Regions from separate parts of the Homo sapiens genome. Here region 2 is linked to region 1. The links come from fine-mapping of genetic effects on gene expression. A gene starts in region 1. The other region holds a variant in brackets. All regions are shown on one strand. Distances are from middle to middle.

Region 1 (5,367 bases):
AGAAAAATAAAAGGGCTCATTGATCCTTTGGGTTTAAATTTAGTTAAATCGGATAGTTTTCCATTTAATAAATAATCAACCCTGACAGGCCCAAAGAATGAACACTTTGGTGGTGGTAACTGTAGGAATGAGGGCACATTAACGAGTTACTGAGGCTGGGTGCAGTGGCTCTCGCTTGTAATCCCAGCACTTTGGGAGGCTGAGGTGGAAGGATGGCTTGAGCCCAGGAGGTTAAGGCTGCAGTGAGCTGTGCCAACTGCACTGCAGCCTGCATGACAGAGCGAGACCCTGTCTCAAAAACAAAAACAAAAACAAAACAAAACCACAACAACAGAAGAAGAAAAAGAAAAATTTGGCTGGGCATGGTGGCTCACACCTGTAATCCCAGCACTTTGGAAGGTGGGAGGAGGGAGGCACTCCTGAGCCCAGGAGTCCCCAGACCAGCCTGTTTCTACGGAAAATAAAACTGGTGGCGCACCCTTGTGGTCCCAGCTACTTGGAAGGTGGAGGCAGGAGGATCAGTTGAGTCCCAGGAGGTCAAGGCTGCAGTGAGCTGTGATGGTGCCACTGCACTCCAGCCTAGGCAACACAGTGAGACTATCACCAAAAAAAAAAAATAAATAAATAAATAAATAAAAAATTTTTTTTTTGAGATGGCATGATTTCGGCTCACTGCAAACCTCTGCCTCCCGGGTTCAAGCAATTCTAATGCCTCAGCCTCCCAAGAAGCTGGGACCACGTGTGCGTGCCACCACACCCGGCTAATTTTTGTATTTTTAGTAGATACTGGGTTTCGCCATGTTCAGGCTGGTCTGGAACTTCTGATCTCAGGTAATCTACCCGCCACAACCTCCCAAAGTGCTGGGATTACAGGCGTGAGCCACCGTGTCCGGCTGAAAAATGTAAATTGTACTGTTACTTTAGCAAAACACAAAATCTAAACAAACATCAGGATGGCCCAAACATAACTATAAGAAACAAAAATGGTTCCACCATTAAAAAGGAGTCAGTTTCGGCCAGGTGTGGTGTCTCACGCCTGTAATCCCAGCACTTTGGGAGGCTGAGGCAGACGGATCACCTGACCTCACGAGCTCGAAACCAGCATGGCCAACATGGTGAAACCCCATCTCTACTAAAAACACAAAAAGTAGCCGGGCATGGTGGCAGGTGCCTGTAACCCCAGCTACTCCGGAGGCTGAGGCAGGAGAATCGCTTGAGCCAAGACCGTGCTATTGCACTCCAGCCTGGGCAACAAGAACGAAACTCTGTCTCAAGAAAAAACAAAACAAAACAAAACAAAACAAAAACAAACAAACAAACAAAAAAAAACAAGGAGTCAGTTTCCCAAGATGGACTTTGGTTTCCTTTTCTATAAAATAAAATGGCTTCCACGATCTCTAAAGTACACTCTAGGTTGGCTGCAGTGGCTCATGCCTATAATCCCAAACTTTGGGAGGCTGAGGTGGGAGGATCACCTGAGCCCAGGAGTTCAAGCCCAGCCTGGGCAACATAGGGACACTCCGTCTCTAATTTAAAAATAAATAAATAAACAAAAATAAAGTACCCTCCAGCCTTATGGTTCTACGACAAATGATAAAAGTCTAAAATGAATGAAGCAAAACATATTCTTTTTTTTTTTTTTTTTTTTTTGAGACGGAGTCTCGCTCTGTCGGCCAGGCTGGAGTGCAATGGCGCGATTTCGGCTCACTGCAACCTCCGCCTCTCAGGTTCAAGCGATTCTTGTGCTTCAGCCTCCCGAGTAGCTGGGATTACAGGCGCCCACCACCACACCCAGCTAAATTTTTTGTATTTTTAGTACAGACAGGGTTTCACCATGTTGGCCAGGCTGGTCTTGAACTCCTGACCTCAGGTGATCCGCCCGCCTCGGCCTACCAAAGTGCTGGGATTACAGGCATGAGCCACCGCGCCCGGCTGAGTTCTTTTTTTAATTTTTAACTTCAGCATACCCTGAAACGAGTTTCTGAGTTCTTATGTTTAAATACGCATGCATAGTTGCCAGTGATGCAGGTTCAAAAATAAAATATAATATGCATGCATAGAAGCTAAATTTCACGGACCAAGATCGAAGTGCAATTACTGTAATTATTCTATGGTGGTGGACTCAAAACCTCCCAGCACACATATAAAGGGAAGGAAAATAGACAAAAATCAGAAGCACGTCTCATACTCCAGCAATCAGGCTTCTATTACAAAGGGGAAAAAACACGAAGCGTTCCTATGCTTGTAAAACCCAGTATTCCTGTGTCTGTGACATTCAGTTTTCAAAAGAGTGATATTTTTATCATAAGCCCTATCAAAACTCTGGCTATCTTCCGGAGATCAGGAAACAACCACACACTTCCATCTATTTTAAACGTGGAAGAATTAGAACGTGGCACAGCAGACCCTAAAAATGATGGAAAAGGCTGTGAAGGTGACACACTAATCGCTAACCGAGAAATGCCTGATTGAAAAGTATAATCGTGTGTCCCATACGGAAGTATATTGTGTCCTCGGACCCCAAGCGGCGTGCCCGGAGGCTCAATGTCACCTTCGCCGAGGCGCTGCAGGCCGGCGGCGGCCACTCTCGGTCAGGTGGCCGCAGGGTCGGCGCTGGGGCAGGGTCATGGCCCGGGAACCGAAGGGGAGCGCTGCGTCCCCTCCTCGGCGCCCACAGCAGGTCCACATCTGACCTGTCCGCGGTGGCACAGCCAGGAAGTTGCGCGGGGGGAGGCCCCGGGGGCGCGCTTTCAGGTCCTCCACTACTCGAGGCGGCGGGCAGGGCGGCCCGCGGTCACCGGGTTCAGTAACCAGGGTAGGGCAAGGGCTAGGCCGGGGAGAGCCCGCCCCGGAGTGGCAGCGGGGACCCAGGTCACCGCAAGGACACGAGGGCGCGGGCAGTGGCAAGCAGGGGCCTTACCCACGGCGGGGCCGGGGGTCCGGGCGGAGTGCAGGAGGCCTCGAGGGTCGGCCCGGGTGGTTGCGGCCACAGCGCAGCGGCGGAGAGCGGCGCCCAGCATGACGGCGATGGCGGCGCGCGGGCTGAGGACAGAGAGAAGCCGGTGTAAGCTCGCGGGTTGCTCCGGAGCGGGCGGGGGCCGGACAGGCTCACAGCGGGCGGAGCACGTAGGCCCGCCCACTGCGACTCTGGCGCGTGGGCGGGAGGAGCCACCGCGCGGCCGGCGGCGGCGGGGGCTACGGCGGCGCGCTGAGGACAAACTGTTAGCCTCGCGTCCCGCCTTGTCTCTGGTCAGGTGACGTGCAGCTGCCATCCTGTAAGTAGGAATGGAGGCGAGGGAGGAGCAACCGACCGTGATCTTGTTCGAGTCAGGCCCAGGAGGGCACTTAATCACCTCAAAATAGGAATGACAGCAATAACAACAAACTATAATAAAAAATACGTACTTTGCGCCCGGGCGCTGTGGCTCATGCCTGTAATCCCAGCACTTTTGGGAGGCCGAGGCGGGCGGATCACCTGCGGTCGGGAGTTCAAGACCAGCCTGGGCAACATGGAGGAACCCCCGTCTCTACTAAAAATACAAAATTAGCCAGGCGTGGTGGCGCAACGCATGCCCGCAATCCCAGCTACTCGGGAGGCTGAGGCAGGAGAATCGCTTGAACCCAGGAGGAGGAGGTTGCGGTGAGCCGAGATGGTGCCATTGCACTCCAGCCTGGGCAACAAGAGCGAAACTCCGTCTCAAAAAAACCAAACAAAACAAAAACCTACTTTGCTTAGCCCCGCCTTCTCATTGTGGCATAAAATAAAACAGCGAATGGGGGAAAGAATGCCGCTGGACGCGGTTGCTCACGCCTGTAATCCTAGCACTTTGGGAGCCCAAGGCGGGCGGATCACCTGAGGTCGGGAGTTCGAGACCAGCCTGACCAACATGGAGAAACCCCTGTCTCTACTAAAAATGCAAAATTAGCCAGGTGTGGTGGCGCATGCCTGTAATCCCAGCTATTTGGGAGGCTGAGGCAGGAGAATTGCTGGAACCCAGGAGGCAGAGGTTGCAGTGAGTTGAGATCGCACCATTGCACTCCAGCCTGGGCAACAAGATCAAAACTCCATCTCAAAAAAAAAAAAGGCCTATGCGTAAGGGATTTTATTAGTACATATTCTTATATCACAAACCAGCTTGCATAAAAAATGAGTTAAACTACTTCATTTCACAGATTAGGAAAGAGGCTCAGAAATTAGGTTGCTGCTGGCAGTCAAGGATCTTTTCGCCACATCCCCAGTTCTGAGGACTCTCACCTGAATGTTTCCCATCTCCTACAGGAGGGCTCCTGAATCCACGATGGCTCTGAAATAGGGTTGATCAAGTTCCACAGTTGTTGCATCTTATCTCACTAGCTACATCCTAACTTTGAGCCCCTGGGCAGTCAAGGACACCTCTCCCAGGCCTGAAGTATCTGGATGCTGCCCAGAGTTAATGAGACATTGTATTCTGTCTTGCTGTCTCCCATTCTCTATCCCTGGGCACACTGAGGAAAGAAAAGGTGGCCATTCATGTGCCACTTCCTCACTTCAGGCCGACTCTCCAGGGCCTCAGCATCTGCCCTTCTCTTTTTCCTCCCTAGCAGTGTGGCTTCAGTGGGTAGGAACCTGGCGGGGAAAAGGATTTTTAAAATGTTTTCAAAGCACCTGCCCTCACCGTTTCCCACCAACCTAGTGCTGGGGCTTAGAAAACAATACCACAAAGTGAAGGCCTATGAAGCAGTTTCTCTCTGACCTTCTGCCCTCTTGTCTCTTGCCCCTTACTCTCCCTCCAGGCATGCCACAGAAACTAGAATCCCTCCTCCCCAAGAGGGGGTCTAGAAAGTAGAACCCCTTTGTCCCAAAGCCAGCCATAAAGCCTAAAAATATTGCTCTAACCTTTCTCTTTGCCTTTCTATGTAACAGCTGGCCATAAAGAAATTAAGGCCGAGCACGGTGGTTCACGCCTGTAATCCTAGCACTTTGAGCCGCCAAGGCCAGGAGATCACTTGAGGTCAGGAGTTTGAGACCAGCCTGGCCAACATGGTGAAACCCCATCTCTATTAAAATTACTAACATTAGCCAGAAATCACTTGAACCCAGGAGGTGGAGGTTGCGGTGAGGCGAGATCACACCACTGCACTCCAGCCTGGGTGACAGAGCTAGACTCCGTCTCAAAAATAAAATTTTTTAAAAAAAAGGAGAAAAGGAAACATGGCCAGGTATGGTGGCTCATGCCTGTAATCCCAGCACTTTGGGAGGCTGAGGTGGGAAGATCACCTGAGGTCGGGAGTTCGAGACCATCCTGGCCAACATGGTGAAACCCCGTCTCTACGAAAAATACAAAAATTAGCTGGGTGTGGTGGCGCACGCTACTCTGGAGCCTGAGG
Region 2 (5,367 bases), 48 kb before region 1:
GGTTGGGGGGTGGTCTGTATCTCCCAACAATCTAAGTTCTTCCTTCACTTTGCAGGGATACTATGAGCAAATAACCCTGACTCTGTTTTCTGTGGTAGTGGTAGTGGGGAGTGCTCCAAGAACTCCTTGAGCCTCATTAGTCCCTCGTTCTTATCTGAGAAGGTTCCTATTGCTTGGTGTATTAGTCCGTTTTCATGCTGCTATAAAGATACTACCTGAATTGGGTAATTTATAAAGAAAGGAGGTTTGGGCCAGGCATGGTGGCTCATGCCTGTAACCCAGCACTTTGGGAGGCTGAGGTGGGTGGATCACCTGCAGTCAGGATTTTGAGACCAGCCTGGCCAACATGGTGAAACCCCGTCTCTACTAAAAATACAAAAATTAGCCGGGCATGGTGGCACGTGCCTGTAGTCCCAGCTATTTGGGAGGCTGAGACAGGAGAATCGCTTGAACCCGGGAGGCGGAGGTTGCAGTGAGCCAAGATCGTGCCACTGCACTCTACTCTGGGTGACAGAGTGAGACTCCATCTCAAAAAAAAAAAAAAAAGGAGGTTTGGCCTGACGCGGTGGCTCATGCCTGTAATCTCAGCACTTTGGGAAGTCAAGGCAGGTGGATCACCTGAGGTCAGGAGTTCGAGACCAGCCTGGGCAAAATGGTGAAACCTCGCCTCTACTAAAAATACAAAAATTAGCCGGGCATGGTGGTGTGCACCCAGCTACTTGGGTGGCTGAGGCAGGAGAATCACTTGAACCTGGGAAACAGAGCTTGCAGTGAGCTGAGATCATGCCACTGCACTCCAGCCTGGGCAACGGAGCAAGACTCAATACTCAAAAAGAAAAAATAAAAAAAAAGAAAGGAGGTTTAATTGACTCACAGTTCTACATGGCTGGGGAGGCCTCAGGAGCTTATAATCATGACAGAAGGCAAAGGGGAAGCGAGGCACATCTTAGATGGCAGTAGGAGAGAGAGCGAGAAAGTGCCACACTTTAAAACCATCAGCTCTTGGGAGAACTCACTCACTATCATGAGAACAGCATGGGGGAAACCACCCCCATGATCCAATCACCTCCCACCAGGTCCCTCCCTCAACATGTGGGGATTACAATTCAAGATGAGATTTGGGTGGGGACACAGAGCCAAATCATATCACTTGGGTAGTGGAGATGAGGGAAAGGAGTGGTATTCCAAAGCACGAGGTATTGAGTACGTTGTTTCATGAGTCTTTTTTTTTTTTATTTATTTTTTATTTTTTTATTGATCATTCTTGGGTGTTTCTCGCAGAGGGGGATTTGGCAGGGTCACAGGACAACAGTGGAGGGAAGGTCAGCAGATAAACAAGTGAACAAAGGTCTCTGGTCTTCCTAGGCAGAGGACCCTGCGGCCTTCCGCAGTGTTTGTGTCCCTGGGTACTTGAGATTAGGGAGTGGTGATGACTCTTAACGAGCATGCTGCCTTCAAGCGTCTGTTTAACAAAGCACATCTTGCACCGCCCTTAATCCATTAACCCTGAGTGGACACAGCACATGTTTCAGAGAGCACAGGGTTGGGGGTAAGGTCACCGATCAACAGGATCCCAAGGCAGAAGAATTTTTCTTAGTACAGAACAAAATGAAAAGTCTCCCATGTCTACCTCTTTCTACACAGACACGGCAACCATCCGATTTCTCAATCTTTCCCCCACCTTTCCCCCCTTTCTATTCCACAGAACTGCCATTGTCATCATGGCCCGTTCTCAATGAGCTGTTGGGTACACCTCCCAGACGGGGTGGTGGCCGGGCAGAGGGGCTCCTCACTTCCCAGTAGGGGCGGCCGGGCAGAGGCGCCCCTCACCTCCCGGACGGGGTGGCTGGCCGGGCGGGGGGCTGACCCCCCTACCTCCCTCCCGGACGGGGCAGCTGGCTGGGCAGAGGGGCTCCTCACTTCCCAGTAGGGGCGGCCGGGCAGAGGCGCCCCTCACCTCCCGGACGGGGCGGCTGGCCGGGCTGGGGGCTGACCCCCCCACCTCCCTCCCGGACGGGGCGGCTGGCCAGGCGGGGGGCTGTCATGAGTCTTGTATTATCCATTTTATTATTCCTTAGTGCATGGTAAAGCTTCCTTTAAAATGCAAGCTGATTTATTTGAGCCAGAGGACCCCAGGGGAGGTGAGATAGATACCCACACCTGGGCAGAGGATTACAGGGAAAACGGCACCCGCTCTTTCCCCTGGGCACAT[A/G]TGGTAGAGGCTGTGGGAATGAGGGTATTGCAGGGGTGATGAGGGTAGAGTCAGGACTGTAACTCCTCATTCCAGGTTCCCCGGAGCTTTGACTGTTGTGCTCCTAGCCTCAAGCAATCCTTCTGCCTCTGCCTCCTAAGGTGCTAGGATTACAGGCCTGAGCCACTGACTGTCCTCCTCCTAGGAGGCTGTTGACTGAGAAGGTCTGGATGTCAAAGCCTTTCACCACAGGATATAGCCAAGATTACTGCAGAGCCAAGGCCCAAGGCCATCCTTCCCTATGCACAGCTCTTCGTAATTCCCCTGACTTCTGTGTGTGCAACTTGTAAGCAGCTCAGCCTGGAGTAGAAGTTGGGGTTCTGACTTTCTACAGCACCTGGGACGGGAAGGATCAGAGGAGCACAGGGAGCTGACTGCCTTATAGGTGTCTCACGTCATCCCATCTGACCCTCCAACAAGCATGTCAGGCTGGCATTATTCACCCCATTCTACAAAGCTCAGAGCAGTGAAGGGCCTTGCATGTGACATTTACCATCATCATCACTAGTATGTCCCTACTCACATCACAGCAATTCTTTGCTCAAATCTGTAATTGCTGAGACTCGAAGTAAAACCCAAAGTCTTCACAATAGCAATAGCCTGCAAAGCTCTGCCCCCCTCCTCTCTTCTCTGACCTCCTCACTGCCCCTGTCTTACTCACTCTGCTCCAGCCACAGTGGCCTCCTTGCTAGCAGTTCCCTCCCCAACACGCCCGGCACAGTCCCACATTCCCGCCTTGCTCTGGCTTCCGCTGTGGCTGTTTCCTCCCCGCAGAACACTCCTGCCTTCCTCACCGCCAAGTCTGGACTCAAACCTCACCTCCTCAAGAGGCTTGCCCAGACAGCCTTTTATATTCTGCAAACTGCCTCCCACTGCCACCTGCCCCCTTACTTTTTGTGGCCTTGACCTTTCAACATACTACATGATTTGCTTACAATACTTGTCTGTCTTGCCTTCACCAGAATGTAAGCGCTCTACAAAGGCAGAGGGAAGGCTATCTTGCTCTCTGATGTATCCTCCAGCCCTTAGAACAGTCCGTGGTACTTAGCAGGTTTTCAGTACATCTGTGCCCGGCGATGGAAAGAATGAATGAATAGTGAGACCGAAGATCGCGGCCGTAAGCCTCTGGGCACGGGTGCCCCGGGGCCTGGCGGAACGCTCAGGGAACTACATTTCCCGTGAAGCTCTGGGCGCAGAGGGCCGCGGGGGCTGCCGGGAAAGGCATACGTGCTTAATCCTGGTGCAGGGGGCGAGCATGGCCGCTCCGCGAGGTGAGCCATTGGCTGGGGTGTCGGCGAGTGTGTTCGTGGAGCGCGTCCTGGGGACGACTCCCGGCATTATCGGCCAGGTTGAGTCCGCTCCTGGCATTCCGCGGAAAGATGGGTGGGTGCCGGGCAGAGGTGTGGCCACCTGCGATGGGGATTGACCTCCGAGGGGAGGGGGCCCTTCTAGACGTCGTGCCGTGGGATAGGTACCTTCTGCTCCCTCCCCGCCACCCTGCCTCAGATCAGCACAAGGTCCTTACTGCTGCCCATCTGACAGTTGGGAACATCGAGGCCTGCAGCGGAGGGGGGTCTCATCCAACAGCCTACAAAACCCTTATTTGACTCTGTCCCCAGTGAGCACCCCCAGCTCTTGCCTGGTTTCCCGGGACACTAGGGTGGGGCCTGAGGAGTGGAGTGGCAGCTGACCCTGTCTGTGCCCCTAGTATTCCCACTTTCCTGTGCGGTGCAGCAGTATGCCTGGGGGAAGATGGGTTCCAACAGCGAAGTGGCGCGGCTGTTGGCCAGCAGTGATCCACTGGCCCAGATCGCAGAGGACAAGCCTTATGCAGAGGTGAGCCCCGGGCTGTATTTCAGCCCACTTTACCCGCAGGTCAGGAGAAAGGGCCTGAGGCAAGTCATAAGAATCAGCTGGGAAGGGTGAGGCAGCAAGGAGGGAGGAGACCCACTTGGCTCTTCAGGCTAATGGACTAGATAGTGTTATCAAAAAGAAGAGAGGTTTTGTCATAATAGGCTGGGATTTCCAGCACTCTCCTTCCCCCAACCACTCTTAGCACTTAGTGAATTTTAATTCAGCCCTCTTTGACAATTAAGTTTTTTTACTTTGACTATTTTTTTGCATTTTTATTAACCTAAAATATTTCTCCTGCCTATTTAGTGGAGAAAAAGCCAAAGCATAGGAAGGCTTTCGCCTCTGCTTCTGAAACTGGAAGATGTATGTTAACCCCTGAAAGAATCATTTAAGAGTCATAGTTTTTCTGCTACCTTGACAGTGCAGATGTCATTCTCCTCTTTGGACAGACAAAGAAGATACATCTAAAGAAGGGAAATAACTAGTCCAAGTCTTCATAGATGGCTAGAGGCCGAGTCTGGACAAGGGCCTGGGTCTACTGCCTCCCTGTATGTCCATGATGGCATGAACATTTGTATCCAGACCTGGGAGGCCTTTCCCAGGACTCAGTTGCCCTGTGGGGAGCACAGCATAACGGATTGGGACAGGCCAACTCAGGGTGGCAGGTTTCTTCCCCCTTCCCCTCCCAAGTTTCCTGTCTTTCCAGTTGTGGATGGGGACTCACCCCCGAGGGGATGCCAAGATCCTTGACAACCGCATCTCACAGAAGACCCTAAGCCAGTGGATTGCTGAGAACCAGGACAGCTTGGGCTCAAAGGTCAAGGACACCTTTAATGGCAACCTGCCCTTCCTCTTCAAAGTGCTCTCAGTTGAAACACCCCTGTCCATCCAGGCACACCCTAACAAGGTAAAGGACAGAGTGCGGTGCAGAGGTCAGGGTACAGAAGGGCTTATGCTAAGGCCCTCCCGTGACTTTTACTGCCACTTTTACCCCACCCATGCCAGGCTCCTGCCCAAGGCCAAATCCAGGCTGACAACTCCCAATTTAGCTCTGCAAAGCCAGATGGTAGTGACACATGCAGCAACTAAGTCTAAGCAAACAGCTCACCGGCCTGTGCCAGGGGAGTTTCTCTAAGCTCATTCCAAGGGGCTTGTTCCTGGTCTTCCCTCATCCAACCCATGTCTATTCATATCTGCCATTTACTCATCTGCTTTCAGGAAGAGTTCAACTTGCAAGGCAGGGCAGGTACCCTCAGCCCCAC

What was found. PIP is the estimated chance that this variant, and not a neighbour inherited with it, causes the effect.
Region 2: its variant is the best candidate, but not a certain one, in a credible set for the expression of COX5A in whole blood (INTERVAL, PIP 0.62).

The regions. Positions count from the first base shown.
Region 1 is chr15:74,934,995-74,940,361 of GRCh38, forward strand. It overlaps COX5A (cytochrome c oxidase subunit 5A), which reads right to left and starts at 3,079. Exons shown (of 5, transcript NM_004255.4): 1 at 2,921-3,079. The coding sequence starts at 3,020. RefSeq lists a silencer at 2,773-3,332.
Region 2 is chr15:74,886,568-74,891,934 of GRCh38, forward strand. It overlaps MPI (mannose phosphate isomerase), which reads left to right and starts at 3,475. Exons shown (of 8, transcript NM_002435.3): 1 at 3,475-3,522; 2 at 3,960-4,087; 3 at 4,812-5,012. The coding sequence starts at 3,507. RefSeq lists enhancers at 3,092-3,141, 3,302-3,601, 3,391-3,924, 3,722-3,801. The variant A/G (reference allele first, on the strand shown) is at 2,213.